3 separate regions of the Homo sapiens genome follow, and all the other regions are linked to region 1. Evidence: fine-mapped expression QTL. A gene starts in region 1. Each other region holds a variant in brackets. All regions are shown on one strand. Distances are from middle to middle. Region 1 holds the start of DRC9 (dynein regulatory complex subunit 9). Region 2 overlaps DRC9 (dynein regulatory complex subunit 9). Region 3 overlaps LRCH3 (leucine rich repeats and calponin homology domain containing 3).

Region 1 (6,981 bases):
AAAACAGTCATCTAAGTTTCCGCCTAACAATATGAGCAAACTAAATCCACAATAAGTAGAAAAAGGAAATAACAAAGAACAGAAAACAATGAAATAGAAACAAACATTAAAGAAAATTACCAAAGCCAACATGACCAAGTAAGGTTTATCCCAAAAAAGCAACGTTGATTTACTATTGGAAAATGCAATGTAATCTACCACATAACAGTTCATAAAGTGAGAAACTATATGATTATCTCAATAATTACCAGAAAAAACAAAAAGCATTTGACAAAATTTGTCCCCATTCAGGATAAAAACCCTCGGGAAACCAGAAACCAAAGGGAGCTTTCTCAATCTGATAAAGGGAACTACAAAAAAATGTAAAGTTAACATCATACTTAATGGTCAGAGACTGGTCCTAAGATCAGGAACAAATGGCAAGGAGGCGTGCTATCTCACTTTTGCTCAGCCTGGAACTGCCTGTCCTCACCAGAGCAATAAGGGGGAAAAAATACATAAATGATACAAAACTACAACAACAAAAATTGTTCCTATTTATAGTTAATACATTGCTAACATCAAAAATTGTAAGGGAGGAAACCCTAGTAGAATAAATAAGTTTAGCTAGGTCTCAGAAGACAAGGTTAATATACAAAAATTATTTCTACCTACTAGCAGTGTATTTTTACATACTAGCAGCAAACAACTGGAAAACTTTAACCATAATTCCACTGACAATGGCATCAAAAAATAAAAGACTTAGGAAAACATTTAACAAAAAACATGCAAGATCTGGCTGGGCACGGCGGCTCATGCCTGTAATCCTGGCACTTTGGGAGGTCGAGGCAGGAGGATCGCCTAAGGCCAGGAGTTCAAAACCCACCTGGACTCTGTCTCAACAAAAAATAAAAAATTAGCCAAGTGTAGTGGCGCATACTTGGGAGTCCCAGCTACTTGGGAGATTAAGGCAGAAGGATCATTTGAGCCCAGGAGTTCAAGCCTGCTGTGAGCTATGATTCTGCCACTGCACTCCAGCCTGAGTGACAGAGCAAGACTGTCTCAAAACAAAACAAAAAAAAAAAAGAGAGAGAAAAGAAAACAGAAGAAAAAATGCAAGATCTATACATTTTTGCTGAGAAAAATTATGCATCACCTCAATAAATGGAGAAACATACATTATGTTCATGGATTGAAAGACTTGATACTGTTAGATGTCAATTATCTCCAAATCATCTATAGAGTAAATGCAATCCCAATCATAAACCCATCAGGCTTTTTTGAAGAAACTGAGAAGCTGACTCTAAAATTTATATGGATCTGTCTTTGAGCCTCCCCCTGCCAAAAAATAAATAAATTTATATGGAAATATAAAAGCCTTAAAATAGCCAAAATCATTTTGAAAAGGAAGAACAAAGCAGGAATGCTTACAATAACAATACTGTCTGATTTCAATATTTATTACAGAGGTACATAATCCAGGCAACTGAATACCCATATGGGGCAAAAAAAAAAAAAAAGGATATTGATCCCCTATCTCACATCATATATAAAAATTAATTTCAGATGAATCATAATCCTAAAAGTGAAGGCTTCTAGAACACAGGAGAATATTTTTATGACCTAGGGGGTATTTAAAGATTTCTTAGAAAGGACATCTGTTGGTGAGGATATGCAGCAACCATAACTAATATTTTGTTGATGGGGGTGTAAAATGGTAGAGTATTTTGGAGAAAGGGTTAGTATTTTTTATAAACATTCACCTACCCTTGACCCAGTAATTTCACCCCTAGGTATTTATCCAAGAACAATGAAAACATATATCCACAAAAATTACTGTACAAGAATATTGACAGCAGCTTTATTTATAATAGCTAAAATCTGGAAGAAACCAAAATACCCATCTTTGAACAAGATAACGGAAAAACAAATTGTGATATAAGTATTCAATGGAATACTCAGCAATTCAAAGGAATAAATTACTATCACATACAACACGAATCTCACAGACATAATGCTGAGCAGATGCCAAATACAGAGGAGTACATACCATATAATTCCATTCAATACACGAAGCTCTAGAATTGGCCAAACTAATCTAGTATTTAAAAAAAAAACAATTAGAAAACTAGTTGCCTGGGGTGGGCAGGAGACTGGCACAGGACAGGAGGGAACGTCTGGAGATGTGGGAACGTTCTATGTTGTGATGGGTTGTATGCTTTATGTGGATGTGCATGGATACATTTGTGGCATTTCAATATATGTAAATTTTACCAAAAAACTTCAAAAGAACAGTAACTCAAGTAGGGGGCTGCGGAATGGCTGAAAGTATATGAAACAAGAATGGCGGAACCTTAAAGCTAGGTGTTAAAGCTAGGTGATGGGTCCATGCGGGTTCATTAAATTATTCTGATGTTGTTTGTACCGGCGTAATAAAAGGTAAAAACAAAACTTACAGGCTTTAGTTGAGAACCAGTTAAAAAGTAAAACTGTTTTGTAGCTCCCCAACACCACCAAAACCAAAAAAGTTATGTAATTTCCTGTAGCATTGAACAGAGGTATAGTCATTAGCGTAACTACAGTGAACACTGTAGCTCCTGGCTATACTCCGTGTCCAGGTTAAAACAAGGAGAATAGTGAGGACGACAGGGTATTTATATACTCTATGAGGAACTAGCGAAACGTATTAGGGACCAGGACTCTTTCTCTTATTTTAATCCAAATTAAAAGAGAGAAGTGCAGGGTTTTGTGGGAAATTTTTTTTAAAGAATTCAGCGAAAATGCAGCATGATAAAAGCTGCAAAAAAGCTATAAACTCCGAAGTTAATATTTTGGCTCACTTGGTTATGAAGAGTATGCATGTAACATTTTGGGAAATTACCATAAAAATGAGTGTCTTTAGATTTCTGGGCTGAATTGAACATGTGTAGGTGTATCAGCATGCAGCCCTGCCCCAGGTACTCTCCCTTTCTCAAAGAATATGGATTATCGTGGACCCACCTCTGACCTAAATACTGTGAAGGAATCAAAGTATGAAACACAAACCTTATCCCACGGAACCTTATAATCTAACTGCAAAGGCAAGATACGCCTAAAAAATAAGCCATTATCCCATAGCAGTACTTGGTTAAATGCCAGGAGGGAGTACAGACACGATGTACTTTTTAATGAAAAGAATATTGCGCTGTGGTGGTTTCAGCAGGCTGCCTTGAGGTTAGGGAATTTGAAATGAGACAAAGAATTTAAGCAGAGAGAAAAATGGGATGGGAGGCGGGCAGGCACTTCCAGAGCAGAGGAACCGGGTAAAGCAAACAAAGTGACGACATAACGTGAAAAGAAACCTGAATTTTGTCTCCAGTGAGCCCCCAACGTCCCACCAACGCCTCTATCTGGCTCTCCGTTCAATGTCTTCCCGAAACTTCAGGTCAGCGGTTCCTAAAGTGGTCCCCGGACAAGCATATCTCACCAACCAGCTGGGAACGTAAACTGTCAACTCTGGGGACTCATCCCAGACCTACTGAGTCACTAAGTGGGGGACTGAGGGCGGCAATCCGTGTTGTACCATGTGCGTCGGGTGACTGTGATGCACGCTCAAGTTTGAAAACCACTCCTCGAGGGCTACTGCTAAGCACAACCCTCCGCACAGAAGTGATACTGTTCTGAGCGCCTAACAGCCAACTTGCAGGGTGTAGGGAGCTGAGAGCGGGTCCCAGGCCTGTAAGAGTCAGGCTCTGCCCCAATTTCGCTTTCTCATCCAGGACACCTTCTCCCAGTCACTATCTCCTACGCCTGCTCCTTCTGGGTGACTTTACCCTGAGAGGGCCCGCTCCCGCCCATGTCGCCCTACCTCAGTGTCAGAGGGGACGTGGTGCCGGCAGGGAGGGGAACTGCCCAAGGAGACGGGAGTAGATGTGGCGCTGGCCCGGAGCCCGCCCAACAGGAGTAAAACGCTTCGGACCCACACAGACCCGCTCCAGCGCCACCGGCTCCGGCCCGGGCCTGAGCCCGAGTAACCCACTCCTCCGCCCCATTCGGCCGCCATCTTCGGGCCGAGCGTCGTTACCATGGAGTGCGTGACGCCTCTGCGCCCGCGCCGGCCCCGCCCCTCGCCGCTGGGGGTAGACGGAGGGCCCAGCCGGCGGAAAGGCGCTTTCCGATTGGACAGCGTCACCCGCTAGAAGTTCGCCGCAGAAGATGAGGGCGGCGATCACGTCCATCGCGTCTCGTGGCGCGAAGCCGGCCAATAAATGCTGTTTGGAGGCCCACGTGAGTGGGGCTGTGGGAGGAAGAAAGGCTAGCGGGCGTTGGCCGTATGTGGGTGTCTTGAGGCAGTTTTTCAGTTCTTTCATTTACCAAAGTGACATGCACCTACTAGGTGCCAGGTGTTTAGACGTACATACAACCCTCTGCAAAATCTTTCAGTGTAGTCCTCTGTATGAAAAGGTGAGTGGAATACTTTCATTTACTTATCCTGAGTCACCAACTTTAGGCCCATTACTTAACTAACGCCATTTCCTATAAAAATCTATGATACACCGTTTACTGTTTTACTCAACTCCATCTTTTAGTTTCCAGCCAAGAATTGCCACTGCACCTGAGATAAGGGGGATCCTGGCCATTAAGGAAACCTTGCCTTCGAAACTGAGCCGTGAGGAACTATACAAAATGGGAAATTGGGACAAATCCCAGTGGCTCATGACACTAAGAAGTAAAATTACGAACTCACTGAGCTGGAAGTCATTCAACGGGAATTGAATAGGTAAGCTACTATACTGGGAAATGAAGGAGTAGGAAAGAAGGAAAACCTCAAGTTACAAACTATGGGTGGAGATTCAGCTACGAGGATGGGGTGGTGTTTTAAGTATTACCATTTTACAAGTAAATACTCACTAAATGTGTGTATCATCCCACAACTAGTGGAAGGTGGGATTCCAAACCACATTTGTAACTTAGGAAACGTGCCCTTTCCACTACAATACCACAAATAAATTGCTATTGTGAATAAAGAATGGAACCAGTCATCCTAAGCTCCTGGCTGTAACAATAGTGTTATGCTGAGGAAAGGCTGTTTCTTTTTTTTTTGAGACGGAGTTTCACTCGTCGCCCAGGCTGGAGTGCAGTGACACAATCTCGGCTCAATGCAACCTCTGCCTCCCGGGATCAAGCTATTCCCCTGCCTCAGCCTCCCGAGTAGCCGGGATTACAGGCACCCGCCACCACGCCCGGCCAATTTTTATGTTTTTAGTAGAGACGTAGTTTCACCACGTTGGCCAGGCTGGTCTCAACCTCATGACCTCAGGTGATCCGCCCGCCTCCGCCTCCCAAAGTGTTGGGATTACAGGCGTGAGCCACCGCGCCCAGCCAGGAGGCAAAGCTGTTTCAATGGTGTAGTGGACAAGTTACCAGCCACGCAAGCCCTTTCCTGTAAACCACAGGACTCCTCCTTTGGCAACGGTGACTTGAGTACTTTTGACTTAATTTCCATATGGGAGGAGAAAAACATAAAAACATACATTTATTATTTACAAATGCTGCATCATCTCAGTAAGGAAGAGCATGTATTTGCTTTTGAGTCTCATTTGCCATTGCACATGTAAGTTACTCGAGTTAAAGTCTCAACCGTTTGTTTTCCCCCGCTTTGCTCAGATGCCTACCACTTACCGTGTGTCTGTTCCACTCAGAATACCATCCACTTCTCCATATGCCTAACCCAGACCTGAAATACCCATCTGTCTTCATGGATATGTCCACAGGTTAACATCTTACAGCTTCCTCAAATTCAACTTTAGCTCCTCCCACAAAACCATCTCCTGATTCCCCAACTTTGTAAATGCACCATTATCCATCCAGCCCCCAAAGCCAGAAACATGTTAGAATTCTCCATTTGAGACTGAAAAGCCCACCTAATTTTCCCTTGTTTATGCTGGGATGCCATTGGGATTTGAAATAATCTGAGCTGGTGGCTCATATCTGTAATCCCAGTACTTTAGGAGAACAAGGCAGGGGGATCACTTGAGGCCAGGAATCGAGACCAGCCTGGGACCCCGAAAAAACATTTTAATTGGCTGGACGTGCCTGGCATGCACCAGATTCTCTGGAGGTTGTGGGCAGGGGATTGTCTGAGCCTAGAAGTTCAAAGGTGCAGTGAGCTATGATCACACCACTGCACTACAGGCTGGGCAACAGAAACCCTGTCTCAAATGAGTAAATTTTAAAATTTCCTGTGAATCAAGTTCTTCAGTGACGTTGTATTACACTCAAGAACAATCTTAAGCCTAAGATCCTCAGTTCAGTACAGGAGACCTCTCATGTGGCATTTTAGTTTTCTGGACTTTCCAGTCAGCCACTTGTGTTCCTAAAATCTTCCTGCCATTTCCTCTTTGAGATGCCGCCCTATTTCTTCCTCTACACTTTACGGTTTTATGTTACGCAGCCAGTATACCTACATGCCTCTATCCCTGAATACCCCGAGTACTACTGATCACATCTACTTAACTGGCACAATGAACACAGTAGGTACTTTTAGCTTATGTTGGCCTTTTGGAGTGGGTGTCCAAGATCAGCACTTCCTCGCGCTGACTGCGTAATTCCCAAGTTCAATTTCATTAGCATTCTAATATACAACTTCCAACTTCCGGCCTTGAAGTACTGCTCACTTCTGGTGAATACAGCATCAGTGCACTTTGTTTGCCTTAAAACCACAATCCTGGGAGGCTGAGACAGAATGGCGTGAACCCGGGAGGCGGAGCGTGCAGTGAGCCAAGATTGCGCCACTGCACTCCAGCCTAGACGACAGAGCAAGACTGTCTCAAAAAAAAAAAAAAAAAAACCACCACAATCCTAATAAATGAGCCTGGCAGAGTACTAACACAAGCCCATGTCCACGAAGCACGGGACTCCAACAATGGCAGCTTTGGCTTGCATACCACCATTGGACTGACCAAACCTTTCTTAGAACTGCCAGTGTGACAGAGGGACCTCTGGGGGAGGGCGTCTTGCTTT
Region 2 (7,196 bases), 48 kb after region 1:
AGCCGTGATCATGCCACTGCACTTCAGCCTGAGTGACAGAACAAGACCGTCTCAAAAACAACAACAACAACAACAACAACAAAGCCGGGCGCAGTGGCTCATGTCTGTGATCCCAGCACTTTGAGAGACCAAGGCAGGAGGATCCCTTGAAGCCAAGAGTTTGAGACCAGCCTGGGCAACAGAGTGAGACCCCCATCTCTAAAAATATTAAAAAGTTAGCCAGGCATGGTGACATGCACCTGTAGTACTAGCTACTTGGGAAGATGGCTTGAGCCCAGGAATTGGAGGTTATAGTGAGCTGTGATCGAGCCACTACACTCCAGCCTGAGTGACAGAGGGAGATCCTGTCTCTAAACAAAAAAATTTTTTTAATACAAAAGAACTAATTCTACCCTACTTACATGGTTAAGACGAAAGGCAATTGGAGGCCAGGCGTGGTGGCTCACGCCTGTAATCCCAGCACTTTGGGAGACCGAGGCAGGTGGATCACCTGAGGTCGGGAGATCAAGACCATCCTGACCAATGTAGAGAAACCCCATCTCTACTAAAAATACAAAATTAGCTGGGTGTGGTGGTGAGCACCTGTAATCCCAGCTACTCAGAAGGCTGAGGCAGGAGGATCACTTGAACCTGGGAGGTGGAGCTTGCAGTAAGCCAAGATCATGCCACTACACTCCAGCCTGGGCAACAAGAGCGAGCCTCCATCTCAAAAAAAATGTAAAAAGAGAAGAAAGGCGGTTGGTATCTAGAGGAGCAGGTCTCGGGTTGAAGCACTTTTGTTGCTAGTCGTGTGCTTGTTTGCTGTGCCGTCAGGTCCCCTCCCTGTGGACTTACTCACACACTGATTCCGCCCAAACAGTTCTTTTCAAACAAATGTTACCTCCCTGACTAAAAGCTTTCCAAGGATTCCCATGACAGTTGGAATAAAATCTGAATTTCTCAGTTGGGTCTCCGGGGTCCTGTGTGGTGCCCTTACCGACCTCCAACCTCATCCTGTCCTCCCCTCAACCCTCACTAGGCTAGAGCCTCCGGAGCTTTCTTTCAGTTCCTGGAATGTATCCAGGTCTTGATTGCTTCAGGATTTGGGCATATACTTATTCTTTTTTTTTTTTTTAGAGTTCCCTTAACCCTATTTTTCTTTTCTTTTTCTTTCCTTTTTTTCTTTTTCTTTTCTTTTTTTTTTTTTTTTTTGAGACAGAATCTCGCTCTATCACCCAGGCTGGACTGCAGTGGCATGATCTCAGCTCACTTCAACCTCCACCTCCCGGGTTCAAGTGATTCTTCTGCCTCAGCCTCCCGAGTAGCTGGGATTACAGGCGCCCGCCACCACTCCCAGCTATTTTTCGTATTTTTAGTAGAGACGGGGTTTCACCATGTTGGCCAGGCTGGTCTCAAACTGCTGACCTCAGCTGGTCGCCATGCCTCAGCCTCCCAAAGTGCTGGGATTACAGGCGTGAGCCCCCGTGCCTGGCCAAGCCTATTTTTCATGTGGTGGGCTTACCTGTCCTTCAGGTATCGAATGAGCCATCGCTTTCCCGAGAGAGTCCTTCTCAGACCTTCCAGAGTCTAATGTACTCCTCCCTTGTTATTTCCTCCCACAGCCTCTCGAGCCTTCCTTTTCTATCATTTTGCACAATTTTTGGAAGTTTACACATGTGTTTGTCTCTTTTTAACCACCTCTCTTCTATTAGACTGTAAGCTCTATGAGGGAAGGGAATATGTCTGTTTAGATCTCCACAATTTTCCTAGCTCAGTGCCTGGTGCTGAATAAATATTTTTCTTAATGACTATTGAGTCCTCACAATTGCCAAGCACTTGGTGACCTGCAAAAAGAAAGCGTTTTCACACGTGTTCTCAAGGAAACCTAATAATCACTCTCTGAGATACTTCAGGCAGGTTGGGTGTTTGTATGTTTGTGTGTTTGTTTTATAGAAAGTAAAAAGTTGGAGATTTGACTTGGCCAAGTTCACACAGCTGGAGGCCTGGGTGGGAAGTCAGTTCTTTTGATCATTTTGACCAGTGTTCTTCCTACCAAAATGAGAAAGCTGTGTGGGACATACGGAGTACAGCAATAATGTGCCTGGGAACTAATCTCACAGCCCTGATGCGCCCTGATTCTTAGAAATGCTGTGTTACTCACTTTCATCTATACACTTCATGATTGTTGGCTAAATTTCCCATTGTGTGACAGCGGAAAAATAGTTCCAGTTCCTTATTGATTTATACGCATAAAAGGGAACCGTAAGCCGCTGACTGAACTGAATGGAGGTAGAATGTATTTTCAATTTAGAAACCTGGTCTTTCCACTACAGAGTCAGAATGAGTATATTGCTAACCTCAAGGACCAACTGCAAGAGATGAAGGCAAAATCCAACTTGGAGAATCGCTACATGAAAACCAATACCGAGCTGCAGATTGCCCAGACCCAGAAAAAGTGTAACAGAACAGAGGAACTCTTGGTGGAAGAGATTGAGGTAATCCCTGGGACATTAGCCAAGAACCCAGGAGATGGCAATTGAGCTGTCACTCCTGATCCCCTCTCAGCTAACAAAGGAGGGAGACAAAGATTTCCCTCCATCTCTATCGGCAACAGCCCCTCCACTTGAGGTTGAAAATAAAAGCCTAAATGAGGATATGCGTGTTCGCAAGCAGAGATTCCAGTGGGCTGTAGCCTCCATCTCCCGCCTCATAATGACTTTGAAAATTGGCTGCACTTTCTCTCCTTGGTCACTTCTTATTTTGGCAAACCAATCACCATTTTTCTGACTAATTATAGGGAGAGGGCAAAACGAGGTGCTTAGTTATGGCAGGATTTTGCTGCTGTTTCTTTCATCTAACCAGTACCTTTCACTCCTCCAGTAAGAAATACAGCATCGAGAGCGCTGAACTTCGTTCAAACCTGAGTTTATAGGATGAGAAGTCACGGTGAAAAATGCCAGGAGGAAGAAAGAAGTGGTAGATCTTCTTTGAGGGGAATGCTAAATGGCACACACGCACGCACGCACACACGCACGCACGCACGCACGCACACACGCAAAGCCAGGCACTAGTCCCAGCTAATCGGAGGTGAGGCAGTGAGGCAGGAGGATCCTTGAGTTTGAAGCCAGCCTGGGCAACTTCAGACTTCAACTAGGGAGACTCCCTTCTCACAAAAAAGAAAAGAAAACAAGAAAGAGCAGCAGGCAGATGGGAAGAGGGAAGCAGGAACAAACGTCCTTGGGCCGTGGAATCTGTGTGTGGGAGGACTCCTCGCTCTGAGACTGACGTGGCTCAAGGCCACGTCAACACTCTTCCTGGCACTCCGGAATCCCCCTTTTTAAGCCCCACAGCCTTGTGCCCTTGGAGCGCCGTTTCTGTCCTTCAGTGGGCACCTCTGTTCAGCTCACGGGATTGTGCTC[G/C]TCTCGTTAGGGACACACGCAGTCCACACAGTGCCGCGCCACGTGGCTCTGCAGTGTTGGTGAACAGGAGTTGCAGGGAACTGAAAGCCCGGGATCCCAGCTGGTAAAGGGAGCCTCAGCTACCGACCGAGCTGCTGCTCTCATCTTGAGAACTTCTGATTCCCAGCCCTGCGGGGAAGACGTACTGGTATCTGATTGTTCTTACAGAAACTCAGGATGAAAACCGAAGAAGAGGCCCGGACTCATACAGAGATTGAAATGTTCCTTAGAAAGGAGCAGCAGGTGGGTCCCCACAGCTTTTCTATGCTTTGACTTTTTTTTTGTACTCTGCTTATACTGAGGAAACAAAAAGAATATTTTGAAGGAAAACCAACCATCATTCTTTCAGCCTAATGAACTTTAGCTCATGTTTTCTTTCAGGGTTATGCATCTGAATAGATATCTTATATAGCTGTAATTTGAGAGAGTGCAGGTAAAATTTTGTTTTCTGCTTTTATCATTGAGCTTACATAAGAAATTTTTCGATTTCTATATTGCTGTATACTCATAATTTTCAAATTATGACTTAATTTATGACTTAAAATTTATTAAGTCAAATTATGACCTACAAATTTATGGGCTGGGCACAGTGGCTCACGCCTGTCATCCCAGCACTTTGGGAGGCCGGGGAGGGTGGATCACCTGAGTTCAGGAGTTTGGGACCAGCCTGACCAATATGGTGAAACCCTGTTTCTATTAAAAAATACAAAAATTAGCCGGGCATGGTGGTGCGCCTGTAATCCCAGCTATTCAGGAGGCTGAGGTGGGAGAATTGCTTGAACCTGGGAGGCAGAGGATGCAGTGAGCTGAGATCACGCCACCGTACTCCAGCCTAGGCAACAGAGCGAGACCCCGTCTCAAAAACAAAAACCAAAAAAAGACATAATTTTTAAATTAATTATTTTTAAATTATGACTATATTTAAAAATTTTTCCCAATAGTATAGTGGCCAATAAATAAAAAAGAAAAATAAATAAAGGCCGGACATGGTGGCTCACGCCTGTAATCCCAGCACTTTGGGAGGCAGAGGCCAGCGGATCACCTGAGGTCAGGAGTTCGAGACCAGCCTGGCCAACATGGAGAAACCCCGTCTCTACTAAAAATACAAAAATTAGCCAGGCATGGTGGCGGGCGCCTGTAATCCCAGCTACTCAGAAGGCTGAGGCAATAGAATCGCTTGAACCCAGGAGGCAGAGGTTACAGTGAGCCGAGATCATGCCACTCACTCCAGCCTGGGCAACAGAGCAAGAATCTGTCTCAAAAAAAAAAAAATTTACTAATCTTTTACACTATAAAAATAACATTCCCAGTTGAGTGAAGATTTTTAAAATTACTCATTGCTTTTCATTTTTTATGTTATTACAGTTTCTTTATAAAATAATTGAAAATTGTGTTTAACGTTCCATTGAATGGTTGTGCCACAGTTTATTTGTTACACTTTTTTTTTATATTTAGGTTGTTTCTAAAGTTTGTTATTATAAATAATGCACTCATTAAAGCTTTGCCCAAAGAACTGTTTTTCTTCATGGCAACTATTTACTAAAAGCCAATCTCAGTCATGAGATTTTTGTTTCAGAGACTAGTATTTTGTGACTTTTAATAAACATTGCTAATACTCTCGAATCTGTGCTGCCGTTAGCAGTGTTGCAGGCAGTAATTTCAAGGTCTCTTCAATATTAGTAGCCATTTTCAATATTTTTCAAAGTCTGCTAATTTAATGAGTTGTTTTATTTTTTATTTTTGCTTATTAACAGGTGAACATAACATTTTTCCACATGTTTACTCAATTTATTTCTTCTTGTGTGAAATATATATGACACGGTGGTTTTAAGAGCATTTTCAATACTAATAACCAAGCTGGGTCTATAATATATCTAAGGTTAGAATTATGTCTAAGTCTACCTGGAGTCTTTCTTTCTTTTTTTTTTTTTTTTTGTTTTGTTTTTGAGATGCAGTCTTGCTTTACTGCCCAGGCTGGAGTGCAGTGGCGTGATCTTGGCTCACTGCAACCTCGGCCTCCTGGGCTCAAGCGATTCGCCTGCCTCAGCCTCCTGAGTAGCTGGGATTACAGGCGCACGTCCAGCTAATTTTTGTATTTTTAGTAGAGATGGGGTTTCACTGTGTTGACCAGGCTGGTCTAGAACTCCTGACCTCAGGTAATCCACCTGCCTCGGCCTCCCAAAGTGCTGGGATTACAGGCGTGAGCCACCGTGCCCAGCCCCAGCTGGAGTCTTTCAAAATAACCCTATTGGATGAATAAAGAGAAAATTTTCCAGCTTAGTTATAATACAGCTTGCCTTTGGAAAAAGCTAATGAGTTTTCAGTCAAGGATTCCAAATGTGTGGTTAAAGAGGAGAATTTGTAGATGCTCTCTTGCAGGTCTTTACTGAAAAAAATACCTGGTAGGCTATTAGAATTAGGGTTCTGTAGCCCTGCACTTTAAGAATTATGTATCATGTTACCTGTTTCAAGTGTGAGATACCTGGCAGGTGTTGGATATTTATCAGTGAGTTGGTAGATAAATGGATCACGAAGGGATGACGCCAGAGTTTCCCAGATCTTCAGCCCAATAACACAAGCAATACATAAGTATATATTTTTTTATTTTTTATTTTTTAGGGACAGGGTCTCTCTCTGTTTCCCAGGCTTCAGTGCAGTGGTGCCACCATAGCTCACTGCAGCCTCAAACTCCTGGGCCCAAGTGATCCTCCCACCTCAGCCTCCTGAGTAGCTGGGACTACAGGTGTGCACCACCACGTCCAGCTACAATTTCAGACAGAAATACATAGGTTAAAGAAAGTGAAAGCCCTCTTAAATTACTCCCCTTTCTGAAGGGAAGTTTCTTCCACATGTATTTCTTTTCATATACATACTTATACCTAAAAACATACCTATTCTCAGTGGTGGTTTTTTGTTTTGTTTTGTTTTTGAGAGGAGTCTTGCTCTGTTGCCCAGGCTGGAGTGCAATGGCGCGATCTCGGCTCACTGCAACCTCTGCCTCCAGGTTCAAGTGATTCTCCTGCCAGCCTCCCGAGTAGCTGGGATTACATGCACCTGCCACCACACCTGGCTAATTTTTGTATTTTTGGTAGAGATGGGGTTTCACCATGTTGGTCAGGCTGGTCTTGAACTCCTGCCCTCAAGTGATCTGCTGGCCTCAGCCTCCCAAAGTGCTGGGATTACAGGCATGAGCCACTGCACCCGGCCTAGTATTTGTTTCTTAAGTAAATTGGATCATGCTATATATAGTGTTCCAGAGCCTGTTGTTTTCTTCTTACATTTACTTTGTTTTTAATGTTTTCTGTAGCAGTACAGCTGATTGATAGAATATATCTCACACTCAGAATATACTGAAATTTAGTGAACCATTCTGTCAGTAGATTTAGGTTGTTTCCAGGTTTTTCTGTGATAACATTGCGAAACCTTCTTGGTTCTGTCTCTAAGTGTATGGTATGTGGAAAGGTATTTCTTTTGTGTATTGCTGTGGATTTGTTAAACCCTCTAATGGTTTTTCAGTGGATTCATTTGGATTTCCTAGGTGGAAAATCTTACTGCATGCAAATAACAATTTTATATTATCCTTTTTATTATTTATATGTCTGTTTTCATTTCATGGCTTGTTGTCTAGCTAGAAAGTCCAGTGTACTTGTTGGTTGTAGTAGTGACAATGGGGAATCCTTTTTCTATTATTGGTTGTTAATACAACACCACTGTTCTGGTGTTTTAGTCAGGATTACACATGAGTTTGTCATAGTCATG
Region 3 (7,196 bases), 86 kb after region 1:
AACCACTCTGGAAAAAGACCCAGTCTTTTAAAACTGTATTTTTTTTTTCTTCGTACTTGCCTTCCAACAGCACAGCTCTGGTAGGAACAGGGGCAGGCTGGCCCATAACAAACATGGTCAACCACTGCATGCAAATACCAACTTAAATGTGTATTTTAAGGCACACTGTTTTGTACTTTGTTGGCTGATGGTGGGAACATCCTGAAATAATTCCAAGGTACGGACTTTAAATCTCAGAGACCCTCAGAGGATGCTTCCGAAAGCCCCGCGGACAGGCTTAGACCTTTCAACAGGTTTTGACATCTGGTAAGTCAACATGACTTGCTTGAGTGGGGCCATTTTCAGCACTCTCCTGTCTATTTTGCATTTCCCATTCTCTGCACCAACCCATGCCATACTCTCTTTGTTTAAAGACACTGTGGCAGGGAACTAGAGCAGACACTGGATGTTTGTGTAGCAAGAACCTCTTTAGGAAGCAGAAGGGAAGAACTGGAGGCTAATGTGCACTATTAGAATAAACTTGTTTAAAAGAATGTATGTTATTTCTTCAGAAACCATATTCAGTGCTCTCAAAATATTTAAAAAGGTCTGTTCTAAAAGATGACCCTTTATAAAACAACATAATATAAAAACGAAAATTTTGCTTTCAATTTGTCCATAGGAATCAAAAAGGTGTTTGCTAACTACCACTTTATGTAAATTTCCATTCTTGTATAATTCAGTTAAAAAAAAAACAGCAAAAGAAAAAAGTAAAAAATAAATAATAGAATGATGATCTACTTTCATAAGAGAAAAACAATCCTGGGAATCCTGCTGGCTGACACAGATGATCTGTGGAGCTGGGCGCTCTCTCTTTCACTTTGTAACATGTGATGCTGTGGCCTAGTCAACTCCTGGCTAGTTAGAAAGAGGTGCGGTGAACTGGGTAAAGAGAATCACTGTCATGGGTGCGGTGAGTTGGGTAAAGAGAATCACTGCCATGGGTGCGGTGAGTTGGGTAAAGAGAATCACTGCCATGGGTGCGGTGAGTTGGGTAAAGAGAATCACTGCCATGGGTGCGGTGAGTTGGGTAAAGAGAATCACTGCCATGGGTGCGGTGAACTGGGTAAAGAGAATCACTGCCATGGGTGCGGTGAGTTGGGTAAAGAGAATCACTGCCATGGGTGCGGTGAGTTGGGTAAAGAGAATCACTGCCATGGGTGCGGTGAACTGGGTAAAGAGAATCACTGCCATGGGTGCGGTGAGTTGGGTAAAGAGAATCACTGCCATGGGTGCGGTGAGTTGGGTAAAGAGAATCACTGCCATGGGTGCGGTGAACTGGGTAAAGAGAATCACTGCCATGGGTGCGGTGAGTTGGGTAAAGAGAATCACTGCCATGGGTGCGGTGAGTTGGGTAAAGAGAATCACTGCCATGGGTGCGGTGAGTTGGGTAAAGAGAATCACTGCCATGGGTGCGGTGAGTTGGGTAAAGAGAATCACTGCCATGGGTGCGGTGAGTTGGGTAAAGAGAATCACTGCCATGGGTGCGGTGAGTTGGGTAAAGAGAATCACTGCCATGGGTGCGGTGAGTTGGGTAAAGAGAATCACTGCCATGGGTGCGGTGAGTTGGGTAAAGAGAATCACTGTCATGGGTGCGGTGAGTTGGGTAAAGAGAATCACTGCCATGGGTGCGGTGAGTTGGGTAAAGAGAATCACTGTCATGGAAGCTACAGGAACAGGAACCAAACTCTGAGAGCAATGGTGGAGCTGTTGATGAGCCCCAGGGCCACCCCTGAGTTACTGATACCTAATTAGAAGGTGATAGAGAAGAATCATGTTTTCCTCCTTGCAGGCTATAGACAAAATATGTTAACAAGACTTGTAATGGTCGTGGTTAATGAAAAAGTATCACATGGCACCAAGTCATTTATTTCTTTAAATTTGTCTTTATACCACATAATATTCCTTAATAGTATAATACTTAGTTGGTTTAATATAATTGCTTTTTAAAGGGGTTATTGGATAAGACTGTATCAAGTTCATTTCCCTTAATCGCATCTATAAATAAATTTAACTATTTGTAATATTAAAGGGCAATAAAGTTATAACTGAGCTGGAGGCAATAAATCCTCATAGCAGGACAACAGCTTAGAAATGGCCTGTTGCATGCCAGACTCCAAAGAACCAGAGCTTCATGGAAAAACTGATGAAATCCAAATAAAGCCTGTAATTCAGTTAATCGTATTGTTCTCATGTTACTTAGTTTGAATTACTGTCCTATGTTTGTATTAGACGTTAGTTAACATTAGAAGAAATTGACTGAAGTATACAAAAGGAACTCTAGGCTATTTTTTCAACATTTCTGGAAGTCTAAAACATTTTAAAAAGTATCAAAGCAAGTGTTAGAACACTGAAGCCAACTGCAGCATTCTCAATCTGAGATATACTTAGTTTTTGAAGGATATATTTAGTTGTCAAATAGCAAGTGGGAAAGTTTAGGAAAATAGAATAATTATTTCAAATTACTTATACTTATTTCAATCTATATATTTATAATTTCTTTGTGTGGTCCTTGGAAATAATCAAGGAAAACTGTTCAAAAGTACACTGACTCTTGTAACACAAAGTCATGTTAATTATGATCGACTTAGCTCAGAGCTAGTCCTGTAAGATTTTAGAGATTTACATTTCTAAAATTTTAGGACAACCAAGTCTATTTAGGCAACATAAAAAATGATAAATTTATTACCTGAGGTACACCAATTTTTCTGCAAGCTTCTAGGAAATTTTCCACATTTCGCCTGCATTTCGCCATTGTTAATTTAGGCTGAAATGAGGAAAAGAAAATGTGTTACTAGAGAAGTTTTGTTTCTGGGACAGGGTCTCACTGCCACCCAGGCTGGAGTGCAGTGGCGCAAGCCTGGCTCGCTGTATCATTGACCTCCCAGGCTCAGGTGATCCTCCCACCTCAGCCTCCCAAGTAGCTGGGACTATAGTTGCATGCCATCACACCTGGGCAATTTTTGTAGAGACAGGGTTCGCCACGTTGCCCAGGCTGGTCTTGAATTCCTGAGTTCAAGCAATCTGCCTGCCTCAGCCTCCCAAAGTGCTGGGATCAGAGGCATCAGCTAAATGCCCAGCCTACTAGCAACATTAAAAAATATTTGCTAACTTTAGAAATACTCCTGGCAATCGCTTCATAACTCTCAATGCTGTAGACTAGGGGGTCAGCGAACTTTTTTTTAAAGGATCAGATAATAAATGTTAGTTCTGAGGGCCATAAGAACTGTTGCAATGCCAGGTGCGGTGGCTCACGCCATAATCCCAGCACTTTGGGAGGCTGAGGTGGGCGGATCACCTCAGGTCGGGAGTTCGAGACCAGCCTGACGAACATGGAGAAACCCCGTCTCTACTAATAATACAAAAATTAGCCAGGTGTGGTGGCGGGC[A/G]CCTGTAATCCCAGCTACTCGGGAGGCTGAGGCACGAGAATCACTTGAACCCGGGAACCCGGGAGGCAGAGGTTGTGGGGAGCTGAGATCGCACCATTGCACTCCTGCCTGGGCAACAAGAACAAAGCTCCATTTCAAAAAAAAAAAAAGAACTGTTGCAACCACTCGAGTCTGCCAGGAGCTTGAAAGCAACTATAGACAATATGCAAACAAGAAAGTGTGACTGGGTTCCAGTGAAACTTGATTTACAAGAAGAAGTGCTGGCCTGTGGGCAGTACTTTGTCACCCCACACTTGAGACATTGGCTTTGATTTTGGAAGGCAAGTACTAAATAGAAAAACTTTGAACGAATAGTTACAAACTTTTTTTTTCCATTTTAAAACAGTGTAACACTAAGGCAGCAGTCCTCAACCTTTTTGGCACCAGGGACTGGTTTCACAGAAGACAATTTTTCCATGGACAGGGCTGGAGCTGGGGGGGATGGTTTCAGGCTGATTCAGGCACATTACATTTATTGTGTATTTTATTTCTATTATTACATTGTAATATATAATGAAATAATCATACATAATGAAATCTACCGTAATGTAGAGTCAGTGGGAGCCCTGAGCTTGTTTACCTGCAACTAGACAGTCCCATCTGGGGATGATGGGAGACACTGACAGATCATCAGGCATTAGATTCTCATAAGGAGCCCGTGGCCTAGATCCCTTCCTCGCATGCGCAGTTCACACCAGCGTTCATGCTCCTCTGAGGATCTAATACTGTTGCTGATCTGACAGGAGGCAGAGCTCGGGTGGTGATGTGAGTAATGGGGAGTGGCTGTAAATACAGATGAAGCTTTGCTCACTGGCCTGTTCACCTCCTGCTGTGCAGCCCAGTTCCTAACAGGCCACAGACTGGTACCCATTTGTGGCCCAGGGGTTGGGGACCCCTGCACTAAAGAAAACTTGGAGGAACAGCCAAAAAAATTAATTACCCATAGTTCATCATTTAAATGTAACTACAACACTTGATTCATTTCCTTTCAGTCTTTTTTTTTTTTTTTTTTCTTTTGAGACAGAGTCTCACTCTGTCGCCAGGCTGGAGTGTGGTGGTGCTATCTTGGCTCACTGCAACCTCCGTCTCTTGGACTCAAGTGATTCTCCTGCTTCTGCCTCCCAAGTAGCTGGGACTACAGGTGTGCACCACCATGCACAGCTAATTTTTGTATTTTTAGTAGAGATGGGGTTTCATCATGTTGGCCAGGATGGTCTCGAACTCCTGACCTCGTGATCTGCCCACCTGGGCCTCCCAAAGTGCTGGGATTACAGGCAAGAGCCACTGTGCCTGGCCCTTTCTTTCTTTTTTAGGGTCAGGGTCTCGCTCTGTTGCCCAGGTTGTTGTGCAGTGGCATGATCGTGGCTCACTGCAGCCTCAAACTCCTGGGCCCAAGTGATCCTCCCGCCACAGCTTCCTGAGTAGCAGGTGCACGCCTAATTTTTTTAAGTATTTTTGTAGAGATGGGATCTCACTATATTGCCCAGGCTGGTCTTAAACTCCCAGCCACAGGTGATCCTCCTGCTTGTCTCCTTCTCAGCTTCAGCTTGATCCCACAGGGAGCTCACAAGTGTGAACCACACGACACTCCCTCCTTGAGGTAGGAGGGCTCAGCCCCATGCTTGTCCGTCACTGGCTATGGGCTTAAGGGAAGAGCAAGGTGGCCTAGGACAGGTCCCTGAAACACACTGGGGGAAAAGTATATTACATCTGTAAGTTTTGGATGGTGTAGTTAAAATACACATACAAATATAGATACATAAAGCAAGTGCGGCAAAATGCAAGAAACGTCAGATCTAGGTGCAGACTTTAATAGTGTTCGTTGTAGGATTCTTTCCACTTTTCTGAAGGTTGAAATTTTTCATGATAAAAATGTGAGGAAAACAGAGGAGGGGTGTGTCAACCCAAAGCCTGTTCTTTTGTGGACTGCCATCCTGAAACTGATGCCCAGACCTGACCAGCAGTGCAAAGAGAACCTGCCAGTTATCCTGAATGCATTTTCTCCCTCATCTTCCACCTGAGGTCGGTCACAGATCATGTCAGTTTTACCTTTGAACCATCTTCCCTCTCACTGCCCAGTTAGTCCAGGCTTTAGTCCCGGCTTGTTATCTTCCTGGCCTGGACTAATACAACAGCCTTTTAATTGGGCATCTTTCTTTTCTTTTCCCTTTTTTTCTTTTGAGACAGAGTCTCGCTCTGTCTTGCCCAGGCTGGAGTGCAGTGGTGCGATCTCAGCTCACTGCAAGCTCCGCCTCCTGGGTTCAAGTGATTCTCCTGGCTCAGCCTCCCAAGTAGCTGGGATTACAGATGTATGAACCACTCCTGGCTAATTTTGTATTTTTAGTAGAGTTGGGGTTTCACCATGTTGGCCAGGCTGGTCTCGAACTCCTGACCTCAGGTGATCCACCAGCCTCGGGCTCCCAAAACGCTGGGATTATAGGCGTAAGCCAGTGCACCCAGTCTCTTTTCCTTTTTCTTTTAAGAAACAAGATCACCCAAGCTGGTCTCAAACTCCTGGGCTCATAGGATCCTCATGCCTCAGGCTCCCAAGTAGCTGGGACTACAGGCACAAGCCACTGAGCCTGGCTTGGGCATCTTTGTAGTGTACCACCTTTAATTTTTCCATTTCTCACTTAGCACCTAGATTCATCATTCCTTTTTTTTTTTTTTTTTTTTCTTTGAGACAGGGTCTTGCTCTCTCACCTAGGCTGGAGTGCACTGGCACAATCACGGCTCACTGCAGCCTCGAACTCCTGGGCTCAAGTGATCCTCCCACATCAGCCTCCTGAGTAGCTGGGACTATAGGCACATGCCACCATACCCAGCTGATTTTTGTATTTTTGGTAGAGACGGGGTTTTGCCATATTGTCCTGGCTGGTCTCAAACTCCTGGGCTCAAGCAATCGTCTGCCTCGGCCTCCCAAATTGCAAAGATTATAAGCATGAGCCACCGCGCCCAGCCTAGATTCGTCATTCTAAACTGCAGTTAGAATCATGGTATTCCCTCTTTAATTCAGTGTATCCTCATTGTCTGTACTAGGGTAAACGTCCTTCACACGGTTCATAAGGCCTTTGTACCACGGCCCCAGCTCACGTCTCTAGCCTTACCCCTTACCATTTGTATTACAACCCTGTGCACGATCCATTCTGAACAATTTACCAATTCCTTAAGTAAAAGCCAAACTTTCCTTAGCTTCTGAATCTAGAAATCCTATGCCTGGAAGGCCCCCTCCCCTCTCTGTACTGCTGGAAAATTCCTTCTTAAACTTCAAGAATTAGTTCAAATTTTGCCCGTTCTGGGAAGGCTTCCCTGAACTCTCCAGGTGGAGTTAAGTGGCCCCTTTTTATATCCCTATAACACACACTGTACATGCCTTTCTTACATTTATCGCACTGCTGTAAGTAGCTGTATACATGTCTATTTCTTCTCGAGTAGAAGTGAGACCAGGAAGGTAGAGACTGGACTCTTTATATCTGTATCCTTAATATCTAGCACAATGCTTAAGAAATGTCTGTCCACTGTGCTTAACAAATGTCTGATGAATAGCCAAGGCTTTTTAGGATTATCAACTTACTACAGCTGGTGAGGGAACATGAATGCTTGGGACAGATCGAGGTCGCACATGATTGGCCAAATGGCAAAGAACAACACCGTCAGTTAGAGCTGCTCCGAGATCACAAGGTAGAGACACTTTCAACCGGTACTCAATATGCTGAAAGAACAAAAAAC

Evidence for each region. PIP is the estimated chance that this variant, and not a neighbour inherited with it, causes the effect.
Region 2: its variant is fine-mapped to the expression of DRC9 in whole blood (TOPMed, PIP above 0.99). The same link has a PIP of 0.9 or more in esophagus mucosa and spleen.
Region 3: its variant is fine-mapped to the expression of DRC9 in visceral fat (GTEx, PIP 0.91).

What each region holds. Positions count from the first base shown.
Region 1 is chr3:197,957,286-197,964,266 of GRCh38, reverse strand. DRC9 (dynein regulatory complex subunit 9) reads left to right here and starts at 4,276. Exons shown (of 12, transcript NM_032263.5): 1 at 4,276-4,422; 2 at 4,548-4,738. It overlaps LMLN (leishmanolysin like peptidase), which reads right to left and starts at 4,050. Exons shown (of 17, transcript NM_001136049.3): 1 at 3,827-4,050. The coding sequence starts at 4,021. RefSeq lists a silencer at 3,992-4,221 and an enhancer at 4,773-5,273.
Region 2 is chr3:197,909,159-197,916,354 of GRCh38, reverse strand. DRC9 (dynein regulatory complex subunit 9) reads left to right here. Exons shown (of 12, transcript NM_032263.5): 8 at 2,313-2,474; 9 at 3,606-3,680. It overlaps LOC124906330 (a long non-coding RNA gene), which reads right to left. Exons shown (of 2, transcript XR_007096246.1): 2 at 6,024-7,196. Among named protein-coding and RNA genes, the nearest start is that of RPL35A, 37 kb to the left of the region's middle. RefSeq lists enhancers at 2,510-3,141, 2,525-3,724. The variant G/C (reference allele first, on the strand shown) is at 3,399.
Region 3 is chr3:197,871,308-197,878,503 of GRCh38, reverse strand. It overlaps LRCH3 (leucine rich repeats and calponin homology domain containing 3), which reads right to left. Exons shown (of 21, transcript NM_001365715.1): 19 at 7,042-7,179; 20 at 2,729-2,806. Among named protein-coding and RNA genes, the nearest start is that of RPL35A, 75 kb to the left of the region's middle. The variant A/G (reference allele first, on the strand shown) is at 3,429.